2 linked regions of the Homo sapiens genome follow. The protein of the gene in region 1 interacts with the protein of each later gene in a biochemical or structural test. Each region holds a gene or a part of one and is shown in the gene's direction. Other genes may lie near its edges.

Region 1 (8,804 bases):
GATCCCCTATGTACCCATTACCCACTTTCAACGATGAACAGCTTGTGAAAGTGGCTATTTTTAACCACATTGTTTCTGGTTACCAATCTAGAGCTGAATTTTCAGTTCTTTCTAAGTTTAGCAGATGTCCTTTGATTCTAACTGATCTTGGTTTATGTTATCTCTGGTGGCTCCTAAGGAGTAGATCTCCTTGATCTCTCTAATTAAGGTGTGGAGGTCACCAATCACATTGGACATTGGACTCACTAAAACAGCTTCTTAGAAGGAGTAAGAACATTATCTGTGGCTGATCTTATGACTTAAGATCCTCAAGATTTTCAAGGACTTATCCATTCTTTGGAGGCTATGGCCAATGAAAGTGTGTATCAAGAAGAAGCCCTAGCTGGGCCAGTCTGACCTGAATTAAGAGTTCAGCCAGTACCTATTGGCCTTGAGCATCTAAATTGACAGATTTTTGATCAGCTGTGGCAGTGCGAGTGTTTCTGGGTTTCTTCAGGTTTAGGAAGTGAGAGTTCTGGGAATTTGTAAGGAAAACTTTGGGCTCCCAGGGAGTTTGAAGCAAGGTTGAAGGATGGTAACAGAGACTATGAAATCAAATTAAAATATACAATGTCTTTGTGTCTCTAAGTGTAACTATTATTAAAGACTGACTTCAATAATATCCATTTCTAATAGATGTTTATTACTTAATATTTGTGTTTATTTTTATTATGTAGTTGTGACTTTATATGCCACACTTGGCAAAGAAGCAGTAGTTCATGGGCTAAATGAATCTGAGGCTTCCTATCTGATTACCAGTGTTGAACTTCTGGAAAGTAAACTTAAGGTAAATATGAAATTTTCTTTTAATTCATGGTTGCGTTGTCTGGCAGGACAGAAAAATATTCATTCAGTAAGTGAATTTTTGTTGCAGGCTTAAGTTTAATAGCTGTTTTTTTTTCTTTCTGCTCAACAGACTGCATTGTTAGATATCAGTTGTGTTAAACATATCATTTATGTGGACAATAAGGCTATCAATAAAGCAGAGTACCCTGAAGGATTTGAGATTCACAGCATGCAATCAGTAGAAGAGTTGGGATCTAACCCAGAAAACTGTAAGTAAAGCAGTAAAAACAATTTTATTTACCTATTCCAAGTTTGTTATTTTGGTAGGTTAGGGAAACAAATGACATGAGTAAATCCACAAAAGTTCTTTGACTGAAAAAAAAAAGTTCAAAAATCTTTAAAAACCATCAAGACCATATATGATTAAGATTTTCCCTCCATTTCTCCTCAAAAAAAATAAGTTAGTAAATTTCACTAAGTGGTTGAGATGTAATCTGTGGTTCAGACTTCATGGCAGTTGCTGCCAAATGTTTCTTCATTTTTTAAATAACCCACTATAACCTTCCAATTTGGGCCTCATAAAAGAAAAATATTTCAGGCCTTCCATTCAGTAAACTTTCTGAAATAAATGCTTAATGCTAGTTATCTTAAGGATGTTTCAGAGGATGCAAAGCTGTTTACCAAGATTAATGCTTGGATTTATTTTACCACTGAGGTGGTAGTTGGTATTTCATTTGAAACAAGTAAGTGTACCTTGTAGCAAAATGTCAGTTGGCCATCAGGGCAGAGAGTTGAGGAAATTAATACTCCATTTGAAGAGTTTTCTTATTATGTTTAATGCGATGGTCAAAATACCATACTATAATGAGAAAAGGATTCATTTTTGCAGGAGAAAATGTTGGTCGAACCTCTACTCAGCTTCTGAACATTTTACCATTAGAGAATGAGCATGCGTTTATAATAACAGGTGTTATTATACACATCTGCCATGTGTCCAGAATGGCAGAGAGTCAGATTTTACCCTGCTTGCCGGCAAACAGATGAGCCTGCAAAACTTCCTGGTGCCATAGACTTTTGGGTCTGAGATGAGGGACAGTTTTTTACTCACAACAATAGCAGTAGCCAGAGTATCATATCAGCATTTGTGTCATAAGAGAGGAACTCTGAGCTTAAAGAGCCTGAATATCTTATTATCTTATTGTACTGGACAGTAAGCATGCCTGCTGTTTGCTCTGGGGAGAGACACTATCTCTGTGCAAATATCCTTGTAAAGATAGTCTGGAACAAAGTCAATGTCTCTGCTTGCAAGATGTGCAGAACATGAGACCCATAGAGAATTGTTTTTCTACACTAGGTTGACCCTGTAAGATTGGGATAAACTTGACTGAGAAGTCCTGATTGGTAGGGATCAGTTACAGTTCTGCTGATTGACCACAAAGGGTGTTGGCAGCAAGCTAAGGGGTCAGCAGTCTTCATAATTTTGTGTGAGCAATAATGTAATAGGCCACATATCCCACTTAGTTCTACTCATGTCTGCAATAGATAGGATACATATGTTTTTGTGGTACAGACAGTTATTGTGATGCCACTTTTTTGCATATTTACTTAAAAGTGGGCAGAAGCAAAGTATCACATGTGCTTAGATTAAGAAGAATTTAGCTACTGCTGTTGCTTTGGTTAATCATCAGAGGAAATATGCAGTCCTTATTTGCTTGGTTTATAAACTATGACTATATCTTTAAAAAGCATTAAAATTAGCCAGTTTAAGTGTAACTATCTTTGTTTCAGTGGTATAGCTCACTGTTTTAAAAAAATGTTATTTTAACTGGTATATAAAAATGTAAATAATTTGTGTAAAGATTTTTAAATGTGATAATCCTGTTAAACTTGTATTTCATTCTGATGATATATATGTGGCTTCTTAGCCATTTTGGTATATTCTCGGAAGGAAAAGTGGTTACTAGGCTAGCACTATACACTGTCTTGAAAGTGGAAGCTCCAGGGTTCTGTTTAAAACTTATCACCTTCAAATGTTAGCATTGAAGTCACCTTAAAGATCAGATCCAGTGGTTTTCAATCAGGGGCATATATGAGAATCACTTGTGGAGCTTTGTTCTATCCCAGACATATTGAATCTGAATTTTCAGAAAGGGGGTTCAGAAATAATATTTTATTTAAGTTCTGCACGTGATTCTGATACCCACTAGTGGTTAGTAACCACAATCTGTCCAGCTGTCTTATTTTAGAGATGAGAAACTGAGGCCTAAGAAGTTTATACACATACTCTGTCCTCCTGATACTCCAAAGTCCCAGAAATCTTTCCACAACATTGCTCTGTATACAACACTGTGGAGAGGCAATGCACAGACAGAGATTAGGTTAAACATCCAGAAAATGGGCCAAATTGAGTCCAAAATGCTCACTGTAATCAGAATTTGATAAACATTTTTGTTTTCTAGCCCAGGCTGGAGCACAATGGTATGACCATAGCTCACCATAGCCTCAACCTGCTAGGCTCACCCAGTCCTCCTGCCTTATCTTCTTGAGTAGCAAGGACTGCAGGTGCATGCCACTGCATCCGGCTAACTTTTTTAGTTTTTGTAGCGACAGAGTCTTGCCATGTTGGCCAGGCTGGTCTCGAAATCCAGGGCTCAAGTGATCCTCCCACCTTGGCCTCTCAAAGTACTAGGATTACAGGCATGAGCCACCTCACCCAGCTCGTTTTGATGATTTAAAGCAAATACTGTCTATTGATAGCTTATCGTTATGCAAAATCTAAATATCCTATTATTCTTTAGTAATTTAACTTTTGAACTGAAGTAAATGTGATATTTTTCATTCATTCATTTAGTGGGCATTCCTCCAAGTAGACCAACGCCTTCAGACATGGCCATTGTTATGTATACTAGTGGTTCTACTGGCCGACCTAAGGGAGTGATGATGCATCATAGCAATTTGATAGCTGGAATGACAGGCCAGTGTGAAAGAATACCTGGACTGGGGTAAGATAATTCTTTAACTTTCTTCTTAGAAATCAGAGTTCATGTTCAGCATTCTCTAAACTCAATCTATATTAAAATGATAAAGCTCTTGGTATTTCTAACTTCAAATGCCTTTTCAAGAATGGTTAAAATATTTCTCTTATTTTGTTTTAGACCGAAGGACACATATATTGGCTACTTGCCTTTGGCTCATGTGCTAGAACTGACAGCAGAGATATCTTGCTTTACCTATGGCTGCAGGATTGGATATTCTTCTCCGCTTACACTCTCTGACCAGGTGACAAACTTTTCAGTATATTGGCATGATCGTATGATGCTGCATGGTTTGGCTGAGAACATATTACTAGGACTCGAGATATTTTAATTCAGCTAAAGCTTTCTCCTTGACCTCAAAATAGCTTCCATGAACAATATGTAGCTATAGGAGATTACCCTGTAGATTTGTTAGCATTGCTTTAGCTATATATTTTAAAATTATTTTTTTTTTCTTTTCTTTTGCTCTGTCACCCAGACTGGAGTGCAATGGTATGATCTTGGCTCACTGCAACCTTTGCCTCTCGGGTTCAAGCGATTCTCCTGCCTCAGCCTCTAGAGTAGCTGGGATTGCAGGCGCCCGCCACCATGCCCTGCTATTTTTTTTGTATTTTTAGTAGAGATGGGGTTTCGCCATGTTGGCCAGGCTAGTCTCGAACTCCTGACCTCCAGTGATCTGTCCGCCTCGGCCTCCCAAAGTGCTGGGATTACAGATGTGAGCCACTGTGCCCAGCCTTAAAATTATTTAAAAATGAATAATTACTTTTATCTTTTTCTACTAGATTTTTACTCTTGAGAACTACGATAGAGAATATAAATGCAATGAGCCTTTTTGACACACTACCCATGAGCATTGGTGGGTTTCTGGGAGGAGATATGTTAGGGTCTTGGCCCAGTTTTCCCGAGATTTTTCTAGAGCAGTACCGTCTGATACAGTAGCCACTAGGCAGATATTTAAATAAAAATTAAGGGCCGGGCGCGGTGGCTCATGCCTGTAATCCCAGCACTTTGGGAGGCCGAGGCGGGTGGATCACAAGGTCAGGAGATTGAGACCATCCTGGCTAACATGGTGAAACCCCGTCTCTACTAAAAAAATACAAAAGAATTAGCTGGGCGAGGTGGTGGGCGCCTGTAGTCCCAGCTACTCGGGAGGCTGAGGCAGGAGAATGGCGTGAACCTGGGAGGTGGAGCTTGCAGTGAGCCAAGATCGCGCCACTGCACTCCAGCCTGGGCGACAGAGCGAGACTCCGTCTCAAAAAAAAAAAAATTAAGTAAAATTGAAAAAAATTTTTTTATTTGCTTTAGCCACATTTCAAGCTCTCAATAGCTACGTGTGACCAACGGCTACCATATTAGGCAGCAAAGATAAAGAATATTTTTATCATCACAGAAAGTTCTATTGGTAGGGGCTGAGGCATCTCCAAAGGTAGTCTCAGCTCACCATACTAAGTTAGGATTCTTCCTTCTCTCTGTAGTTCATAGCAGAAATCCCAACAATGGGTGGGGCTAACTCATATATGTTATACCCATTTGAAATTACACACCTAATACTATTGTCCACAGTTCTGTTTTATGTCTTCTTTGGAATAGTTGCTGTAGAAAAGCTTCAACCAGGCTTAGGGGAAAAAAAAAAAGAGCCACTAAAGAAGCTGTGGGGTTCTGGATGCTGAAAGACAAAGCAAGTATAGGTAGGAATGACTTGTCTATACGTGGCTCTGCTCCTCCAACACTGGGGGCCCAGCTGTTGTTTTTCAGACCGCCCCCCACCAGGCAATGCTGCCTTTTGTTTGAGAGTCTCCATGGAGCATGTAGTTGGTAAGATACGTCCTCAGTGTTCACAGTTAGAAATTGTAATACTTTATTTGTAGAAATACCATTTTAGGGAGAGGCTAGATAGGTTGTATACTATTAAAACAAAAAAAGTTAAATAGTTTTTTTTGGACTTGAGATTCCAATCACCTTTGTGTTTTTTTTTTTTTTGATATATGACTTAAAGTGCACAAATATTAAGTGTACTGCTTGATGAGATTTAATAAGCATATACACATATAGACCTCTGTGATCATCACCGTCTAGATTAGGAAAACAAAGAACATTTTCAGCACCCGTGAATGTCCCTTGGGTCCCCTCCTGGTCATTACCACATTGGATTCTCTTTGAAGGAAGAATCCAGCCTTCTTTTAAAGTGGCTTTTTCTGTGAGAACGCATTCTGTTCCAAACAACTCCTAGCTTTGTACTTTAAGAAACACAATCTTTGTATGACAGGGTGCTGCTGTGTTTGACTATACCACTCAGCTATAAATTCACACTTAAAATCTGCTAGAATAGTAATGGTATGAATAAATACACTATCCGATTGATAGCAGAACTTGACCTGGTGAAATCAAAGTAGACCTATCAATAAGACTAAGGCTTAAACTCTAAAACAAATTTAGTAAAATCTCTGATCATTATGTTTTGTTGTCATGGGTTTTTCTTATGCTCAGAGACATTATCAAAATGTAGAAAACATTTCAGTAAACTTTGAGTATAATTTTTTTTTCCCTTTGTGAATTTGGAAGCCAGGACTAGCCGTTCTTTGATTTTTCACTGCCTTTCTGAGAACAATAGCCTCAGTGTGGGAAAGGAGGGACAGTTGGAGTCTGTTGCTGGTCTGACTTAATTCTTGCTGTCTCTTAGGCTAAGCTAGTACATTAGAAGCCTGTTCAGTAAAATTCACACCTACTTTTTAAATGAACTTTACTGTAAAGACTCTCAATCTTACTAGGAATCTAAAACACTGGAACTTGCTTCACATAGGAAATCAGAAGGATGCAGGAGACTAGAAGCACCACATTTGGAGCCAACTGATGATAGCAATATTGTCATAACCAGGATTACTATGATCACAAGAAGACAAAATAACTGATAAAATTACTAAGAGTAAAAAAAACAAAGAAGGGCTTCTTGTGGCTTCTGCTATCCTGGAACTGCTCTCTGTAGCAAGAGCTGGTCAGTAGCATGCAGAGGGCAACTCCGACCTGAAGGACATGAGAGCCCATTTTGTTTCTGCAGAGCAGCCCTCCTGTGTGTGGTGTACATGGTTTCTGTGTAGGTTTCCACTTGCAAATGTGCACATCCTTGCACATATGTAAAATGAGTTATTTTATCTCCTTTATCCATATTAAAGAAAAGTAGGAGAAAGGCAACTTAGTTCTATCGGGAGAACCATCCTCTATATGGCCATTTGTGCACATTTATGTGTATCTCTACTTTGTCCCTGGCAGTGTTCTCAGTATCTTACCAACTAGAATATTACCAAATTAGAGTTTCAGTATGATGTTAATTGATGTTCATAGTGGTGTCTTCAGGATGTGGCTTTGCCTATTGTTAATCAAAGAAAGTTAAAATCACCTTCAATTTTGTTTTAGTGTTATATCTGTCTTAATCAAGTTTTTTTGAAAATGTAGTAATAGTCTGTGCTATATTTGATAGTATGTTATTAATAAGAATGTTTGATTCATCACAATGTCATTCTCTTGTTATCCTGGATCAAGGTTTCTCCTCTAAGGAAGGTGAAATGTGCTAGAAGCAGTTATCTGTAGCACTAAAATACTTACATTTGAGACTTGTAGGTTATGATAGTTGTTAACAGATAATCACAGAGCAATAAAAGCTCAAATTCCAAGTGTAACTTCTGTATTTGTTATTAATACTTGAATTACAACATGTTTTAAGGTTGGTTTTCCTGATCATATTTATTTTTTCTTTAATATAGTCCAGCAAAATTAAAAAAGGAAGCAAAGGAGACTGTACTGTACTGAAGCCCACACTTATGGCTGCTGTTCCGGTGAGTACAGAATATGAATATGAACATAAGAGGATTGTTTATATAATTTATTGATCGTACTTGGACCTTTTAAAAAGTAATACTCTTAGATATGTCTACATTTTAAAATAATTTTACCTTGTTGAAATCACAGCAAATGTGTTCATTAAAATCTTAGGTACCATACTAGGGAAGACAAAATGGCAAGATTTTGAAATGCACGCCTGTTTGAGTTTGCTGATACATGAAAATTAGGTGATGAAAATGACCTAGTTCAGGTTACCTACTGTGAGAATTGGTCAGACCGTTTTAAGGTAGAATATATTCTAAAGATCATCTTGTTTAATCTCTTAATTAAAAAAATGAGGAAACTTTAGGCCATCCTAGGGAGCTGAAGAATCGTATACAAGGTCAAGGATCTAAGCCCTCCCAACTCTCTTATGGTGATTAAGTAAACTGAAAATTGGAGAGAGCTCCCAAAGGAAAAAAGTTTAATTCTATATATTCGGAATCTTCATGTGAAATACTGCCTTAAAAAAAAAAGATGTTACATTTTATAGCCTTGTAATGATGAATTTTGAAACATTTAACACCATGTTTCAGATTTGTGTAATCAAATATGTTCTAGCTTTTTTTATGCTTCAGAAACTTCAGAAAGACTATGTATCACTACTGCTTATATTATGATCAGACTTGAAATCTTACCCCAATATCTTTCACAGAATTACTTTTGTATATGGAAACTCTGAGATTAGATAAGAAAGTGTTCAGTCCAAGTTGTTCTGAGAATTACAGATGGAAGATACTTTATGGTCCTTTTAGCTTCTAATTGCAAAATTACCAAATAACAAAGAAGTAGAATAGGTCAGAGAAGACTTTGCCTTTTTATTTAGAGGTTCTGTGTAATTCATAAAGTTTTCAAACAGAAAGAAGAGGCATCTGACTAAAACCATAAAAAAGTTGCTAATAATAGCTAGTGCAGTGCTTCCTATGTGCTAGGTAGGCACTGTGCAAAATGCCTTAGATAAATTATCTCACTTAATTCTAAGACTGCAAGGTGGGCCCTGTTACTCTATCTTATAAAGAAGGAAAGTTGCCCCAAAGCCACACAGCTCATAGGTGATGGAATCAAAGT
Region 2 (5,031 bases), on another chromosome or scaffold:
TTGCTTGGACATGCTCTCAGGAAGATAAAAACCATGGAGAAACACTAGGCCATTGACAAATGATCTGAGACAACTTTAGAAAACAATGTAGGATGAATGGAAAGAGAAAGAAAGGAAAGAAAGAAGAAAAAGAAAGAAGGAAAGAAAGAAAGAGAAAGGAAGGAAGGAAAGAAGGAAGGAAAAGAAGGAAGGAAGGAAGGAATATAGTGTTATAAATACTGCACTCAACATTTTCCAAATTCTTGCCATTATTTTTCAAAAGTTTAATAGTTTGCAGAAATAGATACTCAAGCCAAAGTCTGTTTTAGAGAAACTTTCCATGGAAAGTCAGAATTTCTACCACTTCCTTTTCTATCCACATTTCCAGTGCAGAAGAAACTGAGAAACAGAGCTTTTTGAAGAGAGGACAGGGCCATAGCAACAAGGACCTTCTTGGGGGATTAATGGGAGGTCAGTAGAATTAATAACCCTCCTTGGATGAGTGCTACTGTTTTCACATGGCTTCAGATGCTATCAACCTCAAAGAAATGATCTCAACAGAGAAGCTTATTCTCTCCCAACTTCTACGGTAAAATCCAGGAGTATTTTCTCTGGGGATCTGCCCACAGGACAAAGTCCATAAAAGCAAGTCCTGTCTGGACCATGTGGTTATCTGAAGCATTAGCCATCACCAGCACAACAAACGGGGCAGGGCTTTCCAAGGTGGGGCTGGTCAGAAGGGAATCTTTGATAAGAGGCCCACAGGCAGGGAAAGCGAAATAGGGTTGATGAGACCAGGGGAGACCTAAAAAAAAGGCAGCTTTGTGTCTTCTAGCTCCAAATATACCTGCCTTTTAGCTCACACACTGTCCTGGAGTTCTCAGACCTTTAGGGGCCCTAACACAGTTCAGTTCATACAGGGGTTCAAAAGGGACAGTGGCCCATTTGGGAGACCTTTAGGATCAATGGGAATCAATTCCATTGTTTTGCCTCAGAGTAAAGTTTCTGGCTCGGGGACAATTATAAGTTGCAAAAAGGATAGAGGCATATCCCAAGTCTTCCTTCATTCCACAAATAATTACAAACAACCTACTGTGTGCCAGGCACTATTCTTAGCACTGGAAATACACTAGTGAAGAAGCAGATGAGGACCCTGTTTATTGTTTCTCTCCAAGAAATTCTCCAAGAATATTGTTTCTTGGAGAGAAATAATAAATAAACAAGACAATTTCTGAAAGCAATAAGTGCAATCAAGATAATTAAAGGATGCTAAAGTGTGACTTGTGGGGATTGGGAGAGAGATGCACAGACAATATTAAAGAGGAGGCATTCGAGCTTTGTTGTGAACACCGGAAGTAACATGCCGAGCGCCTGGGGGATGGAAACTCCTATAGCACCCCACAGGCTAACAGCAAGCAGGACAAGACAAAAAGGGCAGGTGGGACATGGTAGAGATGGACCCTACCCAGGAAACAGCTCCATCAGCATCTTAGCCTGCCCCACTCTAGCCACACATACCCACGTGTGCTCCTGAGTTCAGTGTGCCCACCTCACTCCCACACCCTCACATAGACTTGGCAAGAGTAAGGAGGGAACTCCATAGAGACATTTTACCTATCTCAGGGGAGCAGCCACAAAGAAGCAAGTCTTGTAAAAGGTCTTTTGCAAAGGAGAGTGAACCCAGCAATGAGAGATCCTTAACAGCTAGTGCCCATTAGGGGGCTAAACCTAAAGCCTGGGTGGTGATGGCTCAAACGCTAATGAGTCAGTGAATCCTTACCGACCCCCTGGCCTTTATAATCTGAGGCAACTTTGGCTGCAGCCCGGGAATGTGCAGGGCACTAGGGAATACAAGGCCTTCTTCCCTGGTTGTCTTGTAATAAAACAGCCATGGGGTTGTCCCTCCAGTCCGAGAGACTGTGATGAGGCCTACATAGCAGCGATGTGGTCAGGTAAAAATCAGGAACCCACTGAAATCTTGGGCAAGCCACCCTGCCTGCTTGTGCCTCGGTTCTCTCATATGTCATATATAGGAGGTGAGGACTCCAGCTCCACCTGCCCCAGGTGGGTGTGGTGATGATGAGGAAAGACAAGAGGCTTGCAAGGACCCTGAAGAGGTCGGAGCATCATACAGATTCCTTTATTAGCCCACATTCTGATGTTCCCTGGTGAGACTTGCCCCAAGCAATTGCTAGTAAATGGGGGTTAATTTCTTCTCCACCTCCCTACTGAACAAAAAAAGAAATGCCAGACTTACTAGGAGAATCGAGTTGCTTTGAGTTTCTTTTGTTTTGTTTTGTTTTGTTTTGTTTTAAGGCTCCCCTTACACACCCTCCTTTAAGCTTTGGGTTTTCTCTCTTATAGTTTGTTGACACATGCTAAAAATGTCTTTGGAGAGAACTTCTGCCTGATAAACACCCAATTCTAGACTGTGGGTGGATTTTCGAGCTGACGGTGGTCAATTCCTTTCATTAAGCAGTGATCTGATTTCTCCACATGGCCATTCTGCCTTCTTGGGGGCAGAGTAGATGGGCAGCAGTTCACCTTTTCAGAGAAAGAGGTCTTCTAGCCACCTGGGCTGCTACTGAATGGTTTTCTCCAGGACGCTCTACCTAATGATTATTTCTATAACATTAAGCATGGTAATAAGTAGCTTCCAATTCAATTCATCCTAAAGCCAAAGAAAATACAGCAACACACACACACACACACACACACACACACACACACACACACACACACCACTTTATGGCAATTCTTAACTGACATTCAATGACTTACTTCTTTTCTTAGAAAATTTCCACCACATTTCTATCCCCAAGCCAACATACAATGTGAAATGAAAGCCAGTGCGTGGAGTGCAGCTGCTAAAAATTTTCAGCACAGGGCTCTTTCTGACTCTGCTCATGAGATGGTATCAGCCACCCAATGACTGGCGTATCTTGGTCCTGTGTCTTTCTTCTTACGCTGTGTTAATGTGTTTACTTTCCATTTGGCAGAGAGACAAGAGAGACACCTCCAACTTCGACAAAGAGTTCACCAGACAGCCTGTGGAACTGACCCCCACTGATAAACTCTTCATCATGAACTTGGACCAAAATGAATTTGCTGGCTTCTCTTATACTAACCCAGAGTTTGTCATTAATGTGTAGGTGAATGCAAACTCCATCGTTGAGCCTGGGGTGTAAGACTTCAAGCCAAGCGTATGTATCAATTCTAGTCTTCCAGGATTCACGGTGCACATGCTGGCATTCAACATGTGGAAAGCTTGTCTTAGAGGGCTTTTCTTTGTATGTGTAGCTTGCTAGTTTGTTTTCTACATTTGAAAATGTTTAGTTTAGAATAAGCGCATTATCCAATTATAGAGGTACAATTTTCCAAACTTCCAGAAACTCATCAAATGAACAGACAATGTCAAAACTACTGTGTCTGATACCAAAATGCTTCAGTATTTGTAATTTTTCAAGTCAGAAGCTGATGTTCCTGGTAAAAGTTTTTACAGTTATTCTATAATATCTTCTTTGAATGCTAAGCATGAGCGATATTTTTAAAAATTGTGAGTAAGCTTTGCAGTTACTGTGAACTATTGTCTCTTGGAGGAAGTTTTTTGTTTAAGAATTGATATGATTAAACTGAATTAATATATGCAAGCTCTTGTTTATATGTCTTTTCTTAAATAGACTATGTTACAGAGGTTACAGACTGAAGATCCAGTTTGTAGCCATTAGATAAGCTTAATTTTACTCACATGGAATTTTACTTAATCAAAACCATTGTGAACATGACAAAATAAGATACTTTATATAAATTCCTGGACTTTTAGATTCCCTTGAAAAAAGAAACAAAAGACTAGCAGCTCTGAGCCTGTATTTCCACATGGAAATAATTCTACAGAACTGAGAAATGCTTCTCCTTTAAAAGCAGTGTATGTTCTCATTTTGCCACAGTCTCCACCACCCCCTATTGTCTTATACCCTCCATCCACTTCCCTGGCTGCTATAGCCACTTGAGGTTGAAACCTCTGTCATTCGTGAGTCACAGGTTTGAGGACCTTAATATTTTCTTGTGCCCCTAATCAGGGTATGTGTGCAGCCACCCACTCAATGTGATTCGTGTTTATTAAGCTATGTATCAAGCACAAGATATGTAAGATTTTATTCCAGCCATGACAAAAGTCAGGAAAGAGGCTGGTGTCAGTGCAGAGAGAATCCTTTGTTTGTTGTCCATGAGGATGTTGCTATTTGTAAAACGACTTACCTTTGACTTATATTCTCCTAATTTAGCTAAGCACCTGCCAAAAAAAGAGGGGGGGGAGTATAAGCCATTTTTTTTTTCAACCGCTTGTCCAGGGAGGCCCAAGAGAAGAGGGAGAAATAAGGGAGACTGCTTCTAAACCCTGCTGGCATGATAAGGACCCGCACTCTCTCAGAGCAGAGTGGCACAGTACTGAGTCACTGGGTGTCAATCTAATACCTTCTTCTCTGAATGAAGTCATGCTTCTATTTTCTTTTCAAAAGATATAGTAATCCAATCTGTAGCACATGCCTTTGTAGCTGCTAAGGCTAGTGGGTAGCAGAAAAGAGCAAATGTGTTCACACTATGTACATTATGACTCTCTACAGAGTGTATTCATCTCTTCCCTTCTTGAAAGAGCCTCAGTAAATGGAGCATTGGAAAGATACAGTGAATCCATTGATCTTACCTAGTGCACTAATCTTTGCAGAATTTTAGAAAGTCTGCCAGTTAAAGTTGGCTGAAGCCCATTTAAACTTCAGGAAGAAACAGTGTTCTAGGCATCACATTTAGAAAACAAAAATACCTGGGATTCTACAGATGTTTGAACATGCATCCCATTTAAGACAGTATTATATAGAAGAGGTTACCATTGCTGCCTCTTATTCCTCCTCATTCCATGCCAGCTTCTCAAACTTTCCCCCTCTGCCAGATATAAACCCATCTTTCATTTAATAAATATTGAGCCCCGACTCTGAGCCAAGCACAGTTCTGGATACTGGTGTTATAGAGACCAATAAGATAGTTCAGGACTCCCCA

What was found. The genes of interacting proteins can lie anywhere in the genome.
Region 2: of the proteins of ACSL4 (region 1) and PRKCB, one has a biochemical effect on the other in vitro, tested with the Homo sapiens proteins (one study listed by BioGRID).

Annotation. Positions count from the first base shown.
Region 1 is NC_000023.11:109,673,288-109,682,091, reverse strand, and holds part of ACSL4 (long-chain-fatty-acid--CoA ligase 4), read left to right. Parts: intron 1-716; coding exon 717-826; intron 827-955; coding exon 956-1,094; intron 1,095-3,676; coding exon 3,677-3,827; intron 3,828-3,980; coding exon 3,981-4,104; intron 4,105-7,618; coding exon 7,619-7,690; intron 7,691-8,804. UniProt on the Homo sapiens protein: Catalyzes the conversion of long-chain fatty acids to their active form acyl-CoA for both synthesis of cellular lipids, and degradation via beta-oxidation. Preferentially activates arachidonate and eicosapentaenoate as substrates.
Region 2 is NC_000016.10:24,216,983-24,222,013, forward strand, and holds the end of PRKCB (protein kinase C beta type), read left to right. Parts: 3' UTR 1-2,978; coding exon of another isoform or gene 2,979-3,131; 3' UTR 3,132-3,629; downstream 3,630-5,031. UniProt on the Homo sapiens protein: Calcium-activated, phospholipid- and diacylglycerol (DAG)-dependent serine/threonine-protein kinase involved in various cellular processes such as regulation of the B-cell receptor (BCR) signalosome, oxidative stress-induced apoptosis, androgen receptor-dependent transcription regulation, insulin signaling and endothelial cells proliferation.